Linked DNA regions of Homo sapiens: region 1 is linked to region 2. Evidence: fine-mapped expression QTL. A gene starts in region 2. The other region holds a variant in brackets. All regions are shown on one strand. Distances are from middle to middle. Region 1 overlaps CDH23 (cadherin related 23). Region 2 holds the start of PSAP (prosaposin).

Evidence for each region.
Region 1: its variant is fine-mapped to the expression of PSAP in esophagus mucosa (GTEx, PIP 0.91).

Annotation. Positions count from the first base shown.
Region 1 is chr10:71,791,974-71,799,973 of GRCh38, reverse strand. CDH23 (cadherin related 23) reads right to left here. Exons shown (of 70, transcript NM_022124.6): 48 at 6,334-6,792; 49 at 2,754-2,870; 50 at 1,396-1,620; 51 at 694-863; 52 at 345-482. Among named protein-coding and RNA genes, the nearest start is that of MIR7152, 5.2 kb to the right of the region's middle. The variant A/G (reference allele first, on the strand shown) is at 3,805.
Region 2 is chr10:71,846,821-71,861,699 of GRCh38, reverse strand. PSAP (prosaposin) reads left to right here and starts at 10,449. Exons shown (of 14, transcript NM_002778.4): 1 at 10,449-10,518. The coding sequence starts at 10,479. RefSeq lists enhancers at 900-999, 1,002-1,146, 10,238-10,768, 10,769-11,299, 11,691-12,190 and 1 more, cis regulatory regions at 1,069-1,079, 1,109-1,119, 443-1,462 and a silencer at 1,611-1,845.

The sequences.
Region 1 (8,000 bases), 58 kb after region 2:
GCTTCCCCTGCTTCTTTTCTGACTGTCTCAAAAAGAAGCCCCATGGACTTCAATCATGCTTTTTTAGTGTGGAGAGGACACATCTCAGATGTTGTCCCACAAAGGGCTCATTCCAAAAGACTTGGCCACTTCCTTAAACATCTGTTGAGACAGAAAGGCCACAGTCTACCAAATGTCTGGGACTCTGAGAACAGGGTTTGCTGACTTGGCTAAAGAACCTCTGGGGATGCAGATGTCCAGGCGACAAGACCCAGAGGGATTACTACAATACTTTTGGTGGCTGCTCAGTCTCTGACCCTGGGTCCTTCCCACTTCCAAATTCCAGGCCCTCCATCACTGCTCACCGTGGTGGGGTTGATGGCAAACTTGCTCTCTCCATCTCCAAGGCTGTACTCAATGAGTGCAAAGTTGCCTGAGTCAGCATCAGTGGCAGTGACTGTCAGGATGATTGTGCCCACAGGCACATCCTCAAAGACAGCCTCCTGGAGCCCAGGGGGCAGGGAGAGAGAGTAGGCCAAGGTCAGTCCCAGAGCCCGAGCACAGCCCTAGAACTCACTGATGCAGGCATCAAGCTGCTCGTGGGCTGGGCACTCCCAGGGGGCTTAGAGGCTGGCAGGGTGGGAGAGGAAGATGCCCAAAGACCCCAAGGAATGGGCGCAGGTCCTGGACCCAGCCTGTGGCCTGGCCACCCACCTGGTAGGAGGGCTGGTCAAAGATGGGGTTGTTGTCATTGATGTCCACGATTTCCAGGTAGACAGGGATCTCAGCTGCCCGGGGCGGGGACCCGTTGTCTGAGGCCCTCACGGTAAAGTTGAGCCAGTGCACCTCCTCGTAGTCCACTGTCCGGTTGGCAATGACCTTCCCTAAGACACAGAGGCTCCCACTGCCATTTTGGCCACTCCTCATTCATGGCAGCTCTCCAAAGTATGAGGAGAAAGACCTGGACTCCGAGGGGCAGCTGTGGTCACTTGAAGGAGGGTGGTCAGGCAGCACCACCCAGTTGCAGGGCACACGGCAGGGAGGGACTGGTGTCCAGTTTTTCTTATGGAGGGTGAAAAAGCTTCTCCCAGTCACAGGAATGAGCATCAACTAGCCCAGGACCTGAGACACCTCCTTCTTGGCCTTCCTGCTCCCTCGGTGGTACTAATAGTAGGAGCTTGGGTGGTGGGGTATCCCAGGTTTCCGGCAGACATCAAGAGGCTTCCATCCCAACCCAGGAGTAAGCACTCTGTCCCTTCCCCTGGTTTGGGCATCTGGAATCTGGCATGGAATGCTGGCCATCTTGGATCTGGCCCAGTCCACTGAGGAGCCACAGAGGGGCTGTGGTCTCTCTTGGGGACTAAGCAAGCAGAGATATATGTCCCCCAGCCCTCCTCTGACAGATTTCTAACCTACCTGCCGAGGAGTCCTCCAGCTGGACATACCCTGGGGGCACCAGGTCCAGCAGGGTGTAGGTGACCAGCCCATTAAGGCCCTTGTCAGGGTCCACGGCTGCCACAGCAATGAGTGTGGTCCCAGGGGTGGCCCCCTCCAGGATCCGCTCCATGTAGTAGGTGATCCCAAAGGGCTTGAACTGGGGCGTATTGTCATTGACGTCCAGGACGTTGACAGTCAGCTTGGCTGTGGTGGAGGCAGGGAGTGAGGGAGAGGGGAAGGACACTAGTGTGGCTGGGCCAGGCCTTCCTTAGCCTCAGCCAAGCCGGGTGAGCATGGCAGCATCCCACAGCCCCCCAGAGGCTGCCTGAGGATTGACCTGACCCTCAGGCTGCAGCACAGGAGGCTTTCCAGTGGTGTGCTCACTTGCTGTTCCATAAGAGGAAGGGCTAGGTGACCCTGGTGGAGCCCTCGGCCCTTCCTGTGCCCCGGTTTCCTAAACTGCTCAATGAGAAAGGGCAAGATAATCTTTAAGACCCTAGATCCTGTCTGAGCTGTATGTATCCCCTCTATGTAACCGGCCTGGGCCCTTAACCATCTGAGCCTCTGACATGGAAGAGATGACCAAGTCTGCCCTTCCTTCCGGAAAATGTGGGCTTCTGGGCTGTGAAGATAAGCAGTCATCATCTGCCAGGCCTGGCTTCCCCTATAGCAGCTGTCTGTACCTCATGGCTGAGGCAACTTGAGGCCACCCCATCCCCACTTCCCCCACTCAACTCTCGCTCTGCCCACACAAAATCCACCCCTCTGGCAGCCCCCTCCCAGCCCACGCCTCAGGCTGCAGGCAGGATGGCCTGGGCCCGATTGGCAGAAGGTAACACTGGGCCCCTCCGTTCTCCACCGTAAGTGCCTGCACCCCCAAAGCAGTGTCTGTGGCCTCAGGTTACCTCCCCTCATTCTTTGCTTCCTTTGTGCTAACCCTGTGGCTTCCTATAAGATCATAGGGTTCCCATCTCACATCCTACCCACACCCTGGTTACCAGTTCTGCTGGCTGAACCTAAGCCTCTGTCTAACCATTTTTTCTCAATCTGTTCCAGGCTCTACCAAGCCTCCTTCCTACTCTCAGCCTGGGGGTTCAGATCACACACAATTCTGAGCTTCTGGATCCTCCACTGCTGAGCTCTATGTAGCCATCACCACCCTGGGCCTCACGGTGGCTGCCACCTTTCATGCCTCTTGTGTTGCCTGACTCCTGGCCCCCAGAGCAACTGGGTCTTGTTGCTCCCTCCCTGGGGACAGACCAGTGCCTGTTCCCCACCTGCCCCCTGCCCTGATTGGCTCTGAGTGACCAATGAGAGATGTCTGCAGGGAACCTTACCATTTGGCACACTGACAGAGCGCTCTGGTAGGTCGCTGGCATTGTCAATCACTGAGAGAGTGACCTCATAGGTGGCAACCAGCTCCCGATTCATGGGGGACTTCACCATTACAGATCCTGTGGACCAGACCAGGCCAGGTTCAGCCTGAGAAGAACCCCCTAAAATCTGCCCTTCCCAGGGGTGCTCCTGGCCAAACCCTCCCAATCCCCACAAAGGATGACGGTCCCCAGTAGAATCTGGGACTTGTGGCTGGGGTGGGCCCACAGCCTCCTCATAAGCTTGGGTCACGTGGCTCTGCCCCTCCCATGATGCTTACTAAGCAGGTGATGTTGGGGAAGTTATGTCACCTCTCTGCACCTCTGTGTCCACATTTGTAAAACTAGATAATTACACTACCGACTGTCAACCCATCCTTTTCTCAATACCCTACTATTTTGAGGATTAGAAAAACAAAATGAGTTTCCATTTGTAAAGTACTTAGAACAGTGCGTGGCACACAGAAGCTATGTAACTGCTTGTTTAAAAACTGCTGTATTCCTTAACAATGCAAATGTACTTAACACTACTGGACTCTACAATTAAAAAGTGGCTAAAATGGTAAATTTCGTTATGTGTATTTTATCACCATTTAAAAAATGCTTAGATTCTAGGGAGATCAAGTTTAAAGGAAAGTCATGGTAGCTGAAAAGCCCTGAGGGGTTCCCTGGAGGGGACAGTGGTGGGACCGTCTGGATACTTCAGGCCCATCCCTTTGTCTTGATTAAATAGGGAGTGACATGGGCTGATTGTGGGACAGGAGCATTGGTTCCATGGCAGTCCTAGCAAGGGGTTTCCTTCTGTTCTACCCACTGCCTCCCAGAGTCCCTGCCTGCTCCCCAAATCAGAGAGGAACCCCCCAGAAGCATGGGCGGGGACTGGACAGACCTAGTTTGGCTGACCTCAGTGCTGCGTTTCTTGGGACCTTTCTTGTTCCTGCCTGTTAGAGGGCCTGGTGGCTTCTCCTCCCATTGGCTTCATCCCAGAGTGAGACCTCCTCTCCCTCTCAGGTAC[A/G]GGGGTATCTGAGATTCCCTTCCCCCTTGGCAGATCCCCCTGCTGGGCTTCTGTCTTCCGTGGGTCCCCAGCCATGGGGTAGTCACTTACCCTGGGCCGCCTCCTCCTCCTCCTCCTCCTCCTCTTCCTACTCTCGCTCCCTGTCCCCCAGGCTGGGGAGCGAGGATGGGGAGAGGGCGGCTGCATTCAGTCTGCAAAGGCTGGGCCACGGCCTTGGCCCAGGCCCCACAGGACAGGAAGGGTGGTGGGGGTGTGGTGGGCATGGAGGAAGGCAATGGGGTGAGGCAGAGAAGAGATGAGGTGGGAAGTGACAGAGAAACAGAGCTCAAACCTGTGGGCCTGCCAGCCATGAGGAAGAGAGAAGAGGGTTAACATCAGTTAGTTCAGGGTGCAGCAGGGATGGAGCAGAGCAGGGCAGGGAGGATGGTGGGGACTCAGAGCTGACGGGGTGGGAGGAGGGAGGGAGGGGTGGAAACAGGGAGTGGGGAGGGGAAGAGGCACTGGGAAGGAAACCAGGGGAGCAAGTGGAAGCCCATTTGGAGTGGAGAGCTCAGGGGCTGAGGCTCTGGCAAGAAGAAAAGGTAGCAAAGTGGGCAAGGGAGGAGTGGAGGGCTGAGGAGGAGGGGGCAGAGAAGACACTGGAAAGAAAAATAGAGAAGAGAGTCAGCTGGAGGAAGGGGGAACAGGAAAGAGAAAAGCAGTAGGGGATTGAGCAGAGCCTCAAGTTGAGTAGGGACGTGGAGCAGCTCTCCATGGTCCTGACCAACCCATGCAGCCAGGAATTTTGCTAACCTGGGATGTAGCTGGTTCTATCTAACTTCTCCTAGTGCTCATGGTTTTTCCTTCTTCTGTTTCCCTTTGGGCCTCAAATGCAGATTGAGTTTATCATGTTCTTTGGCTCGCTGCACACTATGACCACTGGCACTTCTCTTGTTTTATGTGTGCGTCTACTCCCTTTCATTCCCATACTCATCTCTCCTTCCCTTCTCCCCTCAGGCAGTCATTGTAATGTATTGAAGTATATTTTTTGTTAATAAAAGTATTTCTGAAAATCATGTATTATTTTGTATGTATTTTACATTTATGGAAATGGTGCTGTGGCATATATCTCATCCCATTTATTATCCTTTTCAGTAAATACTTATTATTAGGATCCATCTACATTGCTCTGTGTGTGTCTAATTTATTGCTTCTCACCGCTGGCACTGCTGGCTGGTACCCCCATGATGCACACCCATGATATTTTACTCTTCAGTCTCCCAGAAATGGATACCTGCATGGCCCCAACTCCACCATCACCAATAACACTGCAGTGAGCATCCTCAGACAGTTTCATTAATGCCCTGAGACTTTCTCTGGAACATATACTGGGTAATGGTGGTACAAGTGTCCCTTATGCTGGATTGCTATCCAGACAGTGGAATCAGTCACAACTCCTACAGCAGTGCATGAGGGTTTCCATGTCCCCACACGGTCACCAATATCAACATTGTCCAGCATCCTAATGTCCACTAATCACGTGTGAAAAACTGATATCTTACTGCTGTTTTAGTGCTTTGTCACAGCCATGTTGATTCTTCTATCATTCCTCTGGGCCTTCCAAGAAGTACACGTATCAGCTCCATGTCCCTTTCCTAACTCCTCAAAGGAGAAAAACACTGAACTTTTGGGAAAATGATAAAACCATCAGCATTACAATAAACTACATACATTGTGAAAGATAAGCCATGGTTCTCTTGGTTTCGTGATAGTGTAAGAAAATCATTGATCGCATGCAACTTGCAGAGGATTTAAATGGCCAGCATACATATGAAGAAAGTGTTCAGCCACCTAGTTAGTAAAGAAATGCATATTAAACAAGGTATCACGGCTGGGTGCAGTGACTCACGCCTGTAATCCCAGCACTTGGGAGGCCGAGGCAGGTGGATCACCTGAGGTCAGGATGATCAAGACCAGCCTGGCCAACATGGTGAAACCATGTCTCTACTAAAAATACAAAAATTAGCTGGGTGTGGTGGCACATGTCTGTAATCTCAGCTACTCGGGAGGCTGAGGCAGGAGAATCACTTGAACCCAGGAGGCAGGGGTTGCAGTGAGCCGAGATTGCACCATTGCACTCCAGCCTAGGTGACAAGAGTGAAATTCCATCTCAAAAAAAAAGCCAAAACAAAAACAAAAAACAAAAGAACAAACAAGGTATTACTTTCCTCTAAAATTGCCAACATGAAAATGTTATCATATTTAATACTGGCATGATGTGGTGAGATAGGTGCTCTCATACACTGGTAGGGCGAGGGAATCAGGAAGGCCAGAGGAGCTGCTCAAGGGAGGATGAGGAAGCAGAGAAAGAAAGCAAGGGGAGAGATGGAAAAGAGAAGGACGGTTCTGGTTTCCCTCCAGAGGAGGGGGAGAGAAGAGAGTAGCAAGGGAACAGCAAAGAAAGAGAAAGGAGAAAGAAGGGGGAAGCAGGGAGCGAGGAGACAGGACTGGGAGCTGGGAGGGAGGTGGGAGGGGTGCAGGCCCTTGTACCTGTGTTGATATTCACAGCAAAGGCGTCCTCCTGGTTGGGCACCAGGCGATCAGTGTCGTCCTTGGCCACAATGCCGACAATGTGGTACTCTAGCTTTGGGTTGAGGTCGTGGTCAATGGCCGTGATATTGGCAATGACAGTGCCTGGCTCAGCCGACTCCAGCACGCTCACTGTCTGGATGGGGTTGAGGAACTCGGGGCGGGAGTCATTGATGTCATCGATCAGAATGGTGACAATGGCTGTGCCCGAGAGAGGAACGGTGCCCCGGTCGGTGGCCACCACCGTTAGCCTGTAGGACTCCTGCTCCTCTCTGTCGATGGTGGCATTACCAACACGGATGACCCCGGTGACCAGATGAATGAGGAAGCGGTCCTGAGCCCCAGCTTCTATTCGGTAGACCAGCTCCCCATTGAGGCCACTGTCCTCATCTGTGGCTGTGACTTGAAGGACTGAGAATCCTGTTGGAGAGGGAAAAGGGAGTAGCTGCGCACAGTGGCCTCTTCCAGAAAGATCTACCAAGACACATTTGTTGGTGATCTTCTCAAGTCCCCTTCTCATGACAGCCTTGACAGCATTTTCTTTTATACCTTTTTCATACTTGCAATTTTATAGGAAAATGGCATGTTATTTTATTTTATATTCTTTGATTAAACAATATTTTATAATGTAATAATTAGTTGTATCTTCTGCAAATGGTCTGCTTTTGTCTTTTGTCCATTTTTCTGTCAATTATACAAGTCACATAATTATGACAACTTGAGACATATATATATATATATATATATATTTTTTTTTTTTTTTTTTTTTTTTTTTTTTTTTAGATGGAGTCTTACACTGTCACCTAGGCTGGAGTGCAGTGGTGTGATCTCGGCTTACTGCAACCTCTGCTTCCCAGGTTCAAGTGATTCTTATGCAGCAGACTCCTGAGTAGCTGGGATTACAGGCACCCACTACCATGCCTGGCTAATTTTTTGTATTTTTAGTAGAGAAAGGGTTTCTCCATGTCAGGCTGGTCTGGAACTCCAGACCTCAAGTGATCCACCTGCCTCAGCCTCCCAAATTGCTGGGATTACAGGCGTGAGCCACCTCGCCTGGACCAAGACAAATATACTTTTTGGTTTGTTGTTTGCCTTTCAATATTGGCTATAATTATTTGATGTAACAAGGTTTAAATTAGCATGCATAGAAATTTAATATTTTTCCTCTTAAGTTCTTTTCTTTTATGCTTAGAACCTTCTTACCCAGAAATGAGTTATTCACCTAAGTTTTCTTCATTTATTGTTTAGTGTTTTCTACTTTTTAATATTTTCTTTTGGTTTTTATTTTGGTGTCTGACATGGGGGAGAATCTACACTAAATATTACATTATTATTATATTAGATTACATACAGATTATAATAATTGGATGTAATTGATTAGATTAAATAGGTTTTTGCACACTGAATAAGTAGCTTCCCCATTGGCCTCATTGCTTCCTTTATCACATCATATTTTATTCTTTAATTTACCAGTATCTGTTTCTGGGCTACTTTGTCCTGGAGTCTTGTGCCCATATTGCATGGCCTTAAATACTGTAGCTTTATAATATGTTATAAAATCTGGTAAGCCAAATCTGGCTTATTATACTTATGTTTTTCAAAATTTTCTTATTCTTCCAGAAGTTATA
Region 2 (14,879 bases):
TGTATATATTGACCAGGCATGGTGACTCATGCCTGTAATCCCAGCACTTTGGGAGGCCAAGGCGGGCAGATCACTTGAGGTCAGGAACTTGAGACCAGCCCGGCCAACATGATGAAACCTCGTCTCTACTAAAAATACAAAAATTAGCTGGGCATGGTGGTGCACGCCTGTAATCCCAGCTATTCAGGAGGTTGAGGAAGGTGAATTGCTTGAACCTGGGCAGCAAAGATTGCAGTGAGCTGAGATCGAGCCGCCACACTCCAGCCTGGGCAACAGAGCAAGATTCCATCTCAAAAAAAAAAAAAAAAAAAGAGAGATTATGTATATAGAGTGATCAGTTGACAGTCAGGTATATTAACAGGCAACTAATTAATGCCAGTTATTATTATTAGTATTATTATTGAGACAGTGTCTTGCTCTGTTGCCCAGGCTGGCGTGCAGTGGGTCAATCATAGCTCAAGCAATCCTCCCACCTAAGCCTCCTGTAGCTGGGACTATAGGCCCACACCACCACGCCCAGCTAAGAAGCTTTGGTTTTAAGATATGCTAACATGGTCAGTTTGATTACAGCCCAGTTCTTGCTTTCCTTTTCAGGCTCAGAAACAACTGATCTAATCTAGTCTTTGTTCTTTTCACCCTCCAAGTTCACCCAAGAGTAAGGGCTCTAGCAGCAAATCATCTGAAATTTAGAGAAGGAGAAAGGTGCCTGAGGCTAGAGGAAGCAGGGGGGCTTCCCAGGAGGTGAAATGCAGCTGGGCCTTGAAATAAAGGGAGGCTTTGATAGATGCCTGGCACAGGGACATAATCTGATAAATTGACAGGACTGTGACTCAGGAGAACTGGCTCTGATCTCAGTTCTATTATTTATTGGTGTTGTGAGCAGTTAAGTCACTTCCCCTCTTTGGGTTTACTAAGGTTCTCCTTCTGACATCCACAGATGGGTGGCTGAGGCCTGAGAGCCTCCTGAAGTCAGTGCAAAATGTGTCTGAGCATTTTTCTGGCAGAGTGTTCCCAGCTTTCATCAGATTCTCTAGGGGCTCTGACCTCACCAACTTGCAGACTGCTACAGTGACTCAGCAGCTCCCGGCCTGCCCCACTGCCCTGCTGCTGCTGACTCACCAGCTCATGCAAGGCCTTCTTGGCAGCTCCTGCTCTCCCCAAGAGAGCAGCTGATGGGGGCCGCCTGTCCAATAGGAATAACATCTGGGGACAGAGCTGTGGGGCCAGGCCGCATCCCATGCACTGATCGGCTCTCAGAATAGACTGACTGGGAATCTGATCACCCACAGCCCAGCGGGTGACAGGGCCTCAGGGTGCCGAATGGGACGTGTGTACAAGGAGCCCTGATGGAGCTGTGGGCCCGGCCAGCAATCTGGCTTCCCCGGAGTGGGGACATAACAACGAGCCTCTTGTGTGGCCTTTCCACTCAGCCTGCGTGCTTCATTTCTCTGTCTTCAGCCCTTGGTACAGTGCCTGGTATATACCAGGCACTCAATAAATGTATTGCTAAAAAAATAACAGGACAAAATAAGAAATGCTGTTGAGATGTGAACAGATCCCAGAGGGAGCAGTGAGGAGGAAGTGTCCACCAATTCCTAAAGCATAGCAAATAGCAAAGGTTTCCCTCTGGCAGTATCTGTTTTTTTTTTTTTTTTTTTTTTCTTTTTCTGATATAGAGTCTCACTCTGTCGCTCAGGCTGGAGTATAGTGGCATGATCTCAGCTCAACCTCCATACCACCTCCCCTCCCCGCCCCCACCAGGTTCAAGCGATTCTCCCGCCTCAGCCTTCTAAGCAGCTGGGATTACAGGCGCGTGACACCACGCCCAGCTAATTTTTTGTATTTTTAGTAGAGACGGGGTTTCACCATGTTGGCCAGGCTGGTCTTGAACTCCTGATCTCAAGTCATCCACCTGACTTGGCCTTCCAAAGCGCTGGGATTACAGGCATGATCCACCGTGCCTGGCCTTAAATGGATTTTGAAGGATGAATAAGAGTTTACCAGAGAAAGAGGCAGGGAATAGAATTCGAGGTAGGGGATGGGGGTATTTATAAGGCACATAAATGTGGAGCTGCATAGCTTATTTAGACAATCTTAGAGAATGTGGGCAGAGTAGGTGGAACCATGGGATGGAGGGCAAGGTCGGAAGTTTGAGAGAACAGAGATTGCAAAGCTGGGCTAGGACCAAGGCCTTGTGTTCCGTAAAGCAGGGGTGTCCATTCTGTGGCTTCCCTGAGCCATACTGGAAGAAGAAAAATTGTCTTGGGCAACATATAGAATACACTAACATTAATGATAACTGATGAGCTTAAAAAAAATCACACACAAAAAATCTCATAATGTTTTAAGAAAGTTTATAAATGTGTGTTGGGCTGCATTCAAAGCCGTCCTGGGCTGCATGTGACCTGCAGGCCGTGGGTTGGACAAGCTTGCTATAAAGAAATGGCGGCCTGGCGCAGTGGCTCACGCCTGTAATCCCAGCACTTTGAGGGGCTGAGGCAGGTGGATCACCTGAGGTCAGGAGTTCGAGACCAGCTTGACCAACATGGAGAAACACCCTCTCTACTAAAAATACAAAATTAGCTGGGTGTGGTGGTGCATGCCTGTAATCCCAGCTCCTCAGGAGGCTGAGGCAGGAGAATCGCTTGAACCTGGAAGGTGGAGGTTGCGGTGAGCCGAGATCGTGCCACTGCACTCCAACCTGGGCAACAAGAGCAAAACTCCATCTTAAAAAAAAAAAAAGCAAAAGAAATGGTCAGAGAAGTAGAAGGATGACTGAGAGCAAGCAGAGTATGGTGGTGGAATTCACTATATAGCTTCTTCTTTCAGGACCAAGCCACCCACTGTCTCTCCACCATGGGCTCGTCTGCTGAGGGCTCACAATTGTGCCATCTCCAGGAATTCCCCTCAGCCAACGGAGCCCCTCACCCAAGCTTACACTCCCTCCCCTGGGACATATTATCTTGGGCTTTAAAGGCCCACACCCCTTACCCCAGTTGACAGCCGTTCTGCAGCACCGTCCCTGCAGCGCGGTATGGGCTGAGGCCAATGTAACAACCTTGTCGCAGTTTGGTTTCCCCTATCTTGCTGCCCTCACGGCCTCACAGGTGTGATCCTGAGAACATACCCCAATAAACTCCTGCCTGCTCATCTCAGCCTTAGACTGTGGTTCCCAGGCAACCCCATCTGAGACAGACAGCAAATATGTTAACCCAAGAGCCAACTTTGAAAGCAGAGGAGTACCGAGTTGACAAGGCTTCAGGAGGCAAGGTCTATTGGTGATGTCTGCCATGAATGAGGAAGCAGGCAGTGGGGACGTGTGTGGTGCATATTCAGCATCCCTGTGGAGTGGCACCCTGTCACTGATGCCAAAGGCGGGGGCGGGAGAGGAGGACTTGTAGAAAGGAGAAGCAAACCAACAGTGCCAGAGGTGAAAGGGAACAGAAGGTGCTGGTGGACTTACCAAGAAGGAATTGACTGTCTACTTTCCAGAAGCCATTTGGGGGATCAGTGGGCTGGATTATAGTTGGGAGGGATAGTAGTAGTTATGGTGAGTGTATATGCCATACTGAGTATGGCACTGAAGGGAAGGTGAGAGAAAGCACAGTGGCTTATGTGAAAGTCAAGGTGAAGAAAGATTTCTTTTAGGATGGGAGAGCCTTGGGCATACTTATAGTCTGACAGGGAAAAGTCAGTGTACAGAGGGAGACAGAAGATATAAAAAAGGAAAGGGGCTGGGCACCATGGCTCAAACCTATAATCCCAGCACTTTGGGAGGCTGAGGCGGGCAGATCGCCTGAGATCAGGAGTTCGAGACAAGCCTGGCCAACATGGCAAAACCCCGTCTCTACTAAAAATACAAAAATTAGCCAGGTGTGGTAGTGTGTGCCTGTAATCCCAGCTACCTGGGAGATTGAGGTGGGACAATCGCTTGAACCCAGGAGACGGAGGTTGTAGTGAGCCAAGATCATACCACTTCACTCCAGCCTGGGTGACAGAGTGAGACTCCATCTCAAAAAAAAAAAAAAAAAAAGAAGGGGGCTGGACGCAATGGCTCACACCTGTAATCCCAGCACTGTGGGAGGCAGAGGCAGGTGGATCACTTAAGGTCAGGAGTTTGAGACCAGCCCGGTGAACATGGCGAAATCCTGCCTCTACTAAAAATACAAAAACTAGACAGGTGTGGTGGCACACGCCTGTAGCCCCAGCTACAAAGGAGGCTGAGGCAAGAGAATCATTTGAACCCAGGGGACGGAGGTTGCAATGAGCTGAGATCACACCGCTGCACTCCAGCCTGGGGGACAGAGCAAGGCTCCATCACAAAAAAAAAAAAAAAAAAAAAAAAAAAAAGAGAGAGAAAATAAAGAAAGAACAATTGACAAAGCAAAGTACCAGAGCGGTGATATTAAAAATATTCACCGATGATTCCTGGTGATATAGCAGTTAGGAAATAATTAATTCAACAAAGTGAAGGACGCAGGCATTAAACAACCAAAATAGACAGAATATCAGTCCTGTCCTAAAAGTCACAGGAGCTGATCAGCAAAAGCATAGTAGTGTTTAGTGGCTAAACTTGCAAAGGGGAGGAAAATACACAAAGCCTTGCAAAGAAGAGGAAGGACATCTTCTTAGAGAAAGGGAAGGAGTAAAACAGTAAATGGGTGTGAAATAAATTAAAAATTACATAGGGGCTTGAGCATTGTTAACAAGATTAGGAATGAAGCAGAAAACTGAAGATAACAAAAACTTAATAAAGATAGGAGTTTGTTTACATAAATAAAGCCCGCAAGGGACAGCCTAGAGCAGGTACAATCATCAGGGAGGCAGGCTCCTCTCTTGTTGCTTTGTCATCCTTAAAGAGGCTTCTACCTCATGGTCCAGGATGGATGCTTGAGCTCCTGCCATTATGTCTGCAATCCAGGCAGCGGGCCGAAGAAAGGAGATTGTAGCCAGGGCTGATATTTAGCTGATACATATCAGTAGAACTGTACCAGTAATTAAATTATAAAGAGCAGGGTTGGTGTAATCCAGCACTTTGGGAGGCCGAGGTGGGCAGATCACCTGAGGTCAGGAGTTCAACACCAGCCTGGCGAACATGGTGAAACACCATCTCTACTAAAAACACAAAAATTAGCCGGGCATAGTGGCGCAGGTCTGTAGTCCCAGCTACTCAGGAGGCTGAGGCAGGAGAATTGCTTGAACCCAGGAGGCAGAGGTTGCAGTGAGCCAAGATGGCACCACTGCACTCCAGTCTGAGCGACAGAGCAAGACTCCATCTCAAAATAAAAATAAATAAATAAATAAAAATAAAATAAAATAAAAATAAATAAATTATGAAGGACTTCGTACCAGTTGGTAACACCTGCTAGCCTCCTGCTGCCCACCCCCGCTGCCGGGTCATCCCCAGGAACCATCCACCCCTCCAAGACAGCAGCCTGGCTCAGTTGGGGCCTTCTAGGACATTCCCCCAGCACTATGGCCAGTGTCCTGGCAGTACTAGTTGTTAAATATTTGAATATTTGCACTGGATATATGCCTTCTTTTAAAAAGCAGTACCTAGAAGTCACAAATTGGGCACTTGTTTTTTTAAATCTCATTGGCCACAGTGAAGTCCCGTGGCTGCAAGGGAGGTTGGAATGTGTAGCTTTTATTTTAGGTGGCCATGTGCCCTGCTAGAAATAAGGGGTCTCATTAGTAACTATCAAATCAAGGAGAAGGGGGTGAATGATATTAGAGGGTGTAGCAGACTCTGCCACAGGGGAGGCTAAATAGGTGCTGAGAAGCACAGAGGGCTTGGTGAGCTTGGCTGCACTGTTGAGTGCTCCATCAGTCCAGGGGAGGTGGGGGTATAGGAGGAGAAGTCAGAGGTTGGGAATTGGTGGGTGATGGGAGAGGTGTCCCTGGGACAGCCTGAGCCTGCCTTGAGTGACACCTGAGGTCTCATTCCAGGCACAAGGACAAGTGCAGGCTAGAGGGTCTGAAGCCAGAGGTCTCGAGTAGGAAGATGCTGGAGGGAGAGAACCTGTCATTGTTTGAGACAGGGTGAGGGGTCAAGGGAGGCTTCCAGGGCATTAGGGGGCTCCAGGGTTGCTGTTTAGGGCACTGGAGTGGAGCCTTGGGGCCAAGCAGGTGGGCTGGGCCTCAATGGTAGATATGTCTTATCTCCTTGGCTGTCTTGGCCGGAACTTTCAGTTGTAGAAAAAGTAACAGATGGAGGCCATCTGGGGCCACAGGGAACATCATTATTATTATTTGAGATGGGGTCTTGCTCCGTTGCCCCGGCTGACAAGCAGAGGTGCACCACTGCAGCCTCAACCTCTTGGGCTCAAGCCGTCCTCCCGTCCCATAGCCTCTGGAGTAGCTGGGATCACAGACCTGTGTCGCCACACCTGGCTAATTTTTGCATTTTTTTGTAAAGACAGGGTTTCGTCATGTTGCCCAGGATAGTCTCCAACTCCTGGGCTCAAGTGATCCTCTCACCTTGGCCTCCCAAAGTGCTGGGATTACAGGCATGAGCCACCATGCCCGGCTGGAAAATTATTAAAAGGGTCTGACAGGTGGGGATTTCAAGAGATCTCAGACATGAAAATTGGGGCCTCATGCAGAACTGAGATCCAGAACTGGAAGGCCATTGAGAAACCTTAAGCGTGGCTCACATTTCTAAGGAAAAATATCTTTTCAGTTCCTTGAAGACTTGAGCTCCCAGAGGGTGGTAGTGGAAGGGATTTTCTTTTCTCTTTTAAAATTTCCTATATTAATTTTGTTTTTTAAAAATTGCAATGTGGACATTTCCATGAGTGAAATAATGCAAGATGAGTTAATCCAAAGTCAGAATTTCCCCCCTACTTCCAATTCTCTGTTCCCCTCCTGGCTGAAATCCTGCACTTGTGGGAGGGAGAGGGACAGGGTGGAGGGCCATGGCTGCCCGTGCATCCTCTCTTTGGGGTGCGGCAGGCTGCAGGATCTTTTTTTGTTTGTTTTTGGGGTTTTTTTTTTTTTTGAGAGAGTCTCGCTCTGTCATCCAGGCTACAGTGCAATGGTGCGATCTCAGCTCACTGCAACCTCTGCCTCCTGGGTTCAAGCGATTCTCATACCTTAGCCTCCCAGGTAGCTAGGATTACAGGCGCATGCCAATACACCCAGCTAATTTTTGTATTTTTAGTAGAGATGGGGTTTCACCATGTTGGCCAGGCTGGTCTCGATCTCCTGACCTCAAGTGGTCTGCCCGCCTCGACCTCCCAAATTGCTGGGATTACAGGTGTGAGCCACTGCGCCCGATGGGATCCAGGATCTAGAAGCTCTCCACCAGTTCTGCCATCCTCTCTGGGAAGTCAGCAGCAGGGCTTACTAGCAGATGGGGTTTGGCCTCTCACTCTGCCCATGTTTCTTGGGACCCACGTTCCTGGAAGACTTGCTGCAGCCTAGCCCTTGCTCCCTCCTCCTCCTGTTTCAAAGCTGCTTCAGTACCGTTGCTCTGTCCAGCCAGTTTCCACAGTCATCTCTTCATTGTTCAGCACTTGGGATCTTTCCAGCTTCCATGTTTCTAAAGGGCCCTTCTGTGAACACTTCGGACAAAATATTCCTTCACTTCTGGAGTATTTCCCTGAGGGTACATAGCTAGGAAAGGCATAAGAGAGCCAGAGGGTTTGAGGAGCTTCACAGCTCTTGTTGCCTACACGCAGATGGTTCAGAAGGTTTTTTTTTTTTTTTTTTAAGAGGATTTAAGCGTCTACTGACAAGGTAAAAAAATTAATAATAATCTACTTATTGCTTTTATATTCTTTGTTAAAATTCTGTCCTCATGGGGTTCAGGACGAGGCGGATGAAGCAGCATATTACTGTTGAGTTACAGGTGAGGAGATGAAAGGCAGCAAAAGTTTCTCTCAAAAACACTGACATATTCCTCTAGGTATGAAGGAGGAATATTTAAAAAAAAAAAAAAGGAGGGGTGTGGTGGCTCACACCTGTAATCCCAGCACTTTGGGAGGCCAAGGCAGGCAGATCACTTCAGGTCAGAGTTTGAGACCAGCCTGGTCAACATGGTGAAATCCTGTCTCTACCAAAAAATACAAGAAAACTAGCCAGGTGTGGTGGCGTGCACCTGTTATCCCAGCTACTCTGGAGGCTGAGGCAGGAGAATTGCTTGAACCTGGGAGGTAGAAGTGGCAGTGAGCTGAGATCGCACCATTGCACTCCAGCCTGGGTGATAGAGTGAGCCTCCATCTCCAAACAAAAAACAAAACAAAACAAAACAAAACAAAACAAAAAAAACAAGTCCTGGTTCAGGCTCTGTTGTTAACCAGCCCTGAGATGTCAGTAGCTCTATAAGATGAGAGGGGATGATCTGAGGTCTCTGAGCGTCCTTTTGGCTTGGGGTCCTGTAACCTCTGCATGGAGCACTGGGATGCTTTGCTCCTCCATCTGCAAGGAGCTGAAGGATGGGGGATTTGTCCTAGAGCCCCAGCTCCCTTGCTTTTTTTGTTTGTTTTTTTTTTGAGACGGAGTTTCGCTGTTGTTGCCCAGGCTGGAGTGCAGTGGCACGATCTCGGCTCACTGCAAGCTCCGCCTCCCGGGTTCACGCCATTCTCCTGCCTCAGCCTCCCGAGTAGCTGGGACTACAGGCGCCCGCCACATCGTGCGGCTAATTTTTTGTATTTTTAGTAGAGACGGGGTTTCACCCTGTTAGCCAGGATGGTCTCGATCTCCTGACCTCGTGATCTGCCTGCCTCGGCCTCCCAAAGTGCTGGGATTACAGGCGTGAGCCACCGCGCCCGGCTAGCTCCCTTGCTTTTAACCAGTTGTTGTGTGGTCTGCCCCACGCTTCTGCCTGGCCTTGGGAAGCCCAAAGGTGGAGCAGCCACGAAGTCTCCATCTGGCCACTGAGGCCGACCTGTGAGGCGTCCAGTTGAGACCACATCTTGTCCCAACTCACTCAGCTGCCTCACATGGCCCACTGTGGTGCATGGGGCACACTTCCCCATCTGGCTCCCCAGAGGAAGTCAGAGCTGTGGTGGGGGCTGGGGGCACTTAGGGAGATTGCAGGGGAGCAGAACTGAAGGTTCTGAGGCCTTAGTCCCTGGGGTTGTTCTCCAGAGCGGATTGCAGATTGGAGGAAGTTGGAGGAACTGTAGGTTTGCCCTTCCTGGGTCAGGAAACCTGGCTTCGGGCCAGGTTCTATCTCTACCTGTTGTGTGACCTTGGATAAACGTCTTGCCCTCTCCTAGGCTCAATGTCCCTACAGGTAAATGACCTCTAAGTGCCTGCCCTAAGGGGCTAAGATTCCCCTCCTTTCCCTGCCTTGCGGTTGGCAGGTTCTTATCCTTCTGGAGAGGGTCATCATCATTCTCTGTTCAGGTCCTGGCAGGGGCAGCCACAGGCAGAGGGTCTTTGGGTCTTAATTTCTGAAGGCTTCCATGTCACATAAAACGTTGATTACATAAATTTGTTATGCTTTTCTCTTAAGCTGTCTCGTTACAGGAGTGTTGGTTGTGACTCTTATGATCTCTTATGATGGGTGAGGAATGGTATTACATCTTTAACGGTACCACAATGTGAGGCTTAAAAGTTTTTTGTTTTTTTTTTTTTGGTGATGGGAATCTCTCTCGCTCTGTGGTCCAGGCTGCAGTGCAGTAGTGCGATCTTGACTCACGGCAACCTCCACCTCCCGGGTTTAAGCAATTTTCCTGCCTCTGCCTCCTGAAATAGCTGGAACCACAGGCGAGCGCCACCACGCCTGACTAATTTTTGTATTTTTAGTAGAGACAGGGTTTCACCATATTGGCCAGGCTGGTCTTGAACTCCTGACCTCATGATCCGCCCGCCTCGGCCTCCCAAAGTGTTAGGATTACAGGAGTGAGCCAGCATGCCCAGCCCAGACTTGCCTTTGACCAGGTGCCACCACCTGCCCCCACGTGCCCCTGGCCAGGACTGAGCCCTGTACCCTGTTACACGACTACTTATTCTATGTGAAACCCCAAGCTATTCTATGTGAAACCCGCTACTACAATGGGCTAATTTTTTTGTATTTTTTTTTTTGTAGAGATGGGGTTTCACCACGTTGCCCAGGCTAGTCTTGAACCCTCCGCCCGCCTCGGCCTCCCAAGTGTTGGGATTACAGGCGTCAGCCACCGCGGCCGGCCAACAATGTGGAGATTTAAAAGGTATTTTACATATATAATCTCTGACCTATTCAATTAGTAGGGCTTTTCTTTTATGACCTTTCCCTTCCCTTTCTCCAAGTTCTTCCTCACTCCTCCCCATAGCCCTTCCTTTCGCCCCTCCCATTGCCCCCTCCTATTGGCCTCCCCTTCGCGCAGGCGCCCTCAGAGGCGCTGAGTCAGGGCGCTGTTGAGCTCGGGCAGGCCCGGATGGGGCGGGGTTAGCGCCTGCGCTCTGGACGGCTTTGGGGCAGGGCAGATTTATATCTGCGGGGGATCAGCTGACGCTCCGCATTGCAGACTGCGGAGTCAGACGGCGCTATGTACGCCCTCTTCCTCCTGGCCAGCCTCCTGGGCGCGGGTAAGCCCTGGGACCCTCATCCTGGGGAGGAGGTGCCTCGCAGCGTCCATCTGCCCCAGAATGGGCTGTGCCGGGCCTGGCCCCTCTGCTCCCCCTGCCCTAGTTGGCAAGGGGGCGCGCGCACTGCGCAGGCGCGTTCGCTGGCTTTCTCTGGCTTTCTCTGGGCGGCTGGGGGCTGCGGGGGGCGGGCTGCGAAAATGCCCCCGGGAGGACGGCCCAGGCCCTGGGCAGCATCTCCTTCGGGGCTCGAGTGGGTTCCTGCGCGGCTGGGGCCCCGAGGCCTTCCCTCAGGCTGCGCTTCCCACTGTGGGGGTGGGTGAGTCTTGTAGGGTGACCCCTTGGGCAGCTGTGTTGTGCCTGTGCTGGGCGCACGTGATCGAGGTGGGCTGGAGCCCCGTCCCGCAGGACACTTTGGCCGTTGGCTTCAGTTGCCTGTTTGTAAGGGTAGCGAAGCTGCAGGAAGCACATGTGTATCATCTATATTGACGTTTGCATATGTATTTACTCTGGATTCTAGGTGTTGACAAAACGAGTCAAACTCTGTAAAAATATTTTGAGATTTATTCTGAGGCAAATATGAGTGACCATGGCCCGTGACACAGCCCTCAGGAGGTCCTGAGAACATGTGCCTAAGGTGGTTGGGATACAGCTGGGTTTTACATATTTTCGGGAGGCACGAGACATCAATCAAATACATTTAAGAAATACGTTGGTTTGGTTCAGAAGGGCGAAACAACTCAAAGCGGCGGGGGGCTTCCAGGCCATAGGTAAATTTAAACATTTTCTAGTTGATAATTGGTTGAGTTTATCTGAAAACCTAGAATCAATAGAAAGAAAGTATTCAAGTTAAGATAAAGGATTGTGGAGACCAAGTTTTATTGTGCAGAGGAAGCTCTCAGGTAGCCGACTAAGAGAGCGAGCACGTTGTAAAATATTTCTATGGAAATGAAAGGGTGACTGGCTCTTAGTTGATTATCTCCTGGATCTGGAGAGGAAGGAAGGAAAACATAGGGGAAAGGGGATTCTCTATAGAATGTGGATTTTTCCCACAAGAGACTTTGCAGGGCAATTTCAAGGTATGGCAAGGAAATATATTTTGGGGTTAGATATTTTGATTTTTTTTTCCTTGTCTTATAAAATGTTATGCCAGAGTCAGATTGGAAAGTAAGTCACGATATATGGGGTCAAATAAAACCCATCTGATGAGAGTTTATGGTTTGTAGGGTATGATTCCTACACCCCTTAGATAGGAATTTGGGCAAGCTAAAAAAAATCGGAGCTTAATTCTCATAGGTATTGAAGGCGATATAGGGTTTTCTGGTCCAGTTATTTTGCCATGGGGTCCTCATTTCACTTGCTTTGAAATGTCTTGCATCTGGGTGCGGTGGCTTATGCCTGTAATCCCAGCACATTGGGACACCGAGGTGGGAGGATCGCTTGAGCCTAGGAGTTGGAGACCAGCCTGGGCAACATAGCAAGACCCCACCTGTGAAAAAAAGAAAAAGAGAAAAGAAAGTCTTGCACGCTATTGGCCGTTTTTTTTTTGTTTGTTTGTTTTGTTTGTTTGTTTGTTTTTTGAGACGGAGTTTCGCTGTTGTTGCCCAGGCCGGAGTGGTGCAATGGCGTAGTCTCGGCTAACTGCAACCTCCGCCTTCCGGGTTCAAGCCATTCTCCCGCCTCAGCCTCCCAAAGTTCTGGGATTACAGGCGTGAGACACCGCACCCAGCCCCCACCACAATGTCTGTTTTTTAGTAACTATATGTAGTTTAAGGGCTGGCTGCCATTTTTAACCTAGCTACCCAAATTTTAATAAAAAGTAACAAAGTGGATGACAGGGTTGATGCAAAACCGAAGAAATGAGTTAGCTTTCAGCAGCTCTCAAGAATGTATCTTGACCCTATACGAAGCTCTTAAATTTGTTTTACTTGTACACAATGAAAGATGATCTGCTTATAAAAAAATCATTTTGATTTTATACTCAAGCTTATACTGCAGTTATTCCATGGTCTGTATAATAAACTAATGCTGGTCTCTAAATTTTTTATACTGATTCAGGGCAATTTTTTTTCTTTCTTTTTACATTATCCATTGTTCTTGTTGACGTTGAGTCACTCCTCACAAGACCCTTAAGAGTTCTGATTCATTCACATCACCCAAAAGGGACTCAATCGTGTCTCGGGAAATATAAAATCCACCTCTGGTATATATGGGCTTATGGTTAACCACAATATTTAGTTAACCAAGGGACCCTCTTCCGTGAACACTCGGGTAAATGGGAGGTATTGTAATGGCCTTGGTTTAACTTTGCTGTCCTACCTTTAGGATTAGGCCAAAGTCAGTGCTGATAACAGTGTTTGAATGCTCCCTGGCCTTCACAGCTCTGGCCCCTTTGTGATATTGTGAAAATGTTACTCCTAAAATTTCTAGACATGATAATGAGTTTTGTTAGTGAAAGTGCCTGGTGACTGCAGCCATTGTCTGCTGCCCGAGAGGCACTTAGAACTTTCTTCGTGACACTGTCGTAGTACAGAATGCCACCCTGAATCGGGATGGGCTTTGTATTTTGTGTTTCAGTGATGTCCTGGTGGTAGAGACACTTGCTTTTGAGTTACTTTTCTGCCCATCCAGCTGCCCCTCCTTTTTCCCCACCTAAAAGCGAAAGCAAAGCCATGGCACCATGAGAGAATTGGAGAGCATGTAATCTGACCCCTTTGTAAGGAATGAAGACCTGGAGGTGCCCAGAGGTGACTCTCCCAAATCATAGACCATTTACTGGGGATGCCAGGACCAGAACCCAAGACTCCACAGTGCTCGCTTTTTCCATATCCCTCTGTCCACATGGACCTCTTAACTTTTAAAAACTTAGTGTAAGTTACATACGTGGACGATTAAGTAGACAACTTGATGAATTACCACAAAGTGAGCAGCCCCCGAGGTTGGGGAGCAGTGCAGTAGCATCCAGAGGCCCCTGTTCACCCATTCACTGCCCTGTCCCACTTGCCCCGAAGGAAACATTGTTAACCTTTGAACACCATAGATGTGAAGGCTGCAGTTTCGATCTTTTACAAATGGGATCATGGAGGGTATTGCTGTTAGGTGAGTCCTCTGGTGGAAAAAGGAGCGTGTTCATCAGCTAGGTGTAAGGCATGAGGGATGGTGCCTGGGATGTGGCAGGTGCTCCCTGAAGCTTAGATGCCCTGATAGCTGTCAGCTGTGTGGTGGCTAGCCTGCTGAATGTTGTCTACACCACGCTAAGACAGTTATGTTTTCTGGGGATGCTAGAAGGTGTTATATATATTCTTTCAATAACATGTGAATTTATAGCCTGGCCTGCTGAATATCAGTAGGAACTTCAGGTCTTGGCCTGTCAGGGATTTTGGATAAATCTCCTGTTTATTAATAGTAAATCAGTTTTATTCTGTGAAAATAAGAGTATAATTCCTGAAGAAAGAAGGGTTTGTTTTAACAAATCAGTGATTTGTCAAGTCCTTGAAGTACATTTGACAGGTTGTTTTGTTTCTTTTTTTTTTTTTTGGAGCAGAAAGTTTAATAGGCAGAAGAAAGGAGAAAGGAGAGCAGCTCTCTCTTGTGAGAGAGAGGCATCCGAAAGGGAGAAGCCTGACAGGTTGTTATTGAGATGGGAGTCTTGCTCTGTCCCCAGGCTGGTGTGCAGTGGCGCGATCTCGGCTCACTGCCACTTCCGCCTTCCGGGTTCAAGCGATTTTCCCACCTCTGCCTCCCGAGTAGCTAGGATTATAGGTGCCCACCACCATGCCTATAAAATCCACCTCTGGTATATATGGGCTTATGGTTAACCACAATATTTAGTTGACCAAAGGACCCTCTTCCCTGAACACTCGGGTAAATGGGAGGTAATTTTTTGTATTTTAGTAGAGATGGGGTTTCACCATGTTGGCCAGGCTGGTCTTGAACTCCTGACCTCAAGTAATCCGCCTGCCTCGGCCTCCCAAAGTGCTGGGATTACAGGTGTGAGCCACCGCACCCGGCCCTGACAGGTTGTTTTGAGAACAAACTATGAGAGTTGAAGTGTGTTGGATTGATTGGTGTGGCATTTTGTAGATGAGGGAAAGGAGAACTTGGTCTTCCATTTTCTTGGTGAGTGAGACCATGGGATGTCCAGGCAGCTGTGGGGAAGTGGAAGGGTAGGGCGGGGTGTTGCTGGCTGGGAACAGCACCTAATGAGGCATGCTTAGGAAGTTCTCAAGGCCAAGACCAAAGCCACTTAGACAGGTGTGCATGGCAGCTTTGGAGGCAGCTTCTAGCAGAGATTCTAGGTTACTGGCTACCAGGCTGTAAGCCTTGCTTTCTGGCTCCTTTTTGGTTCTGCCACCAGGAAGGAG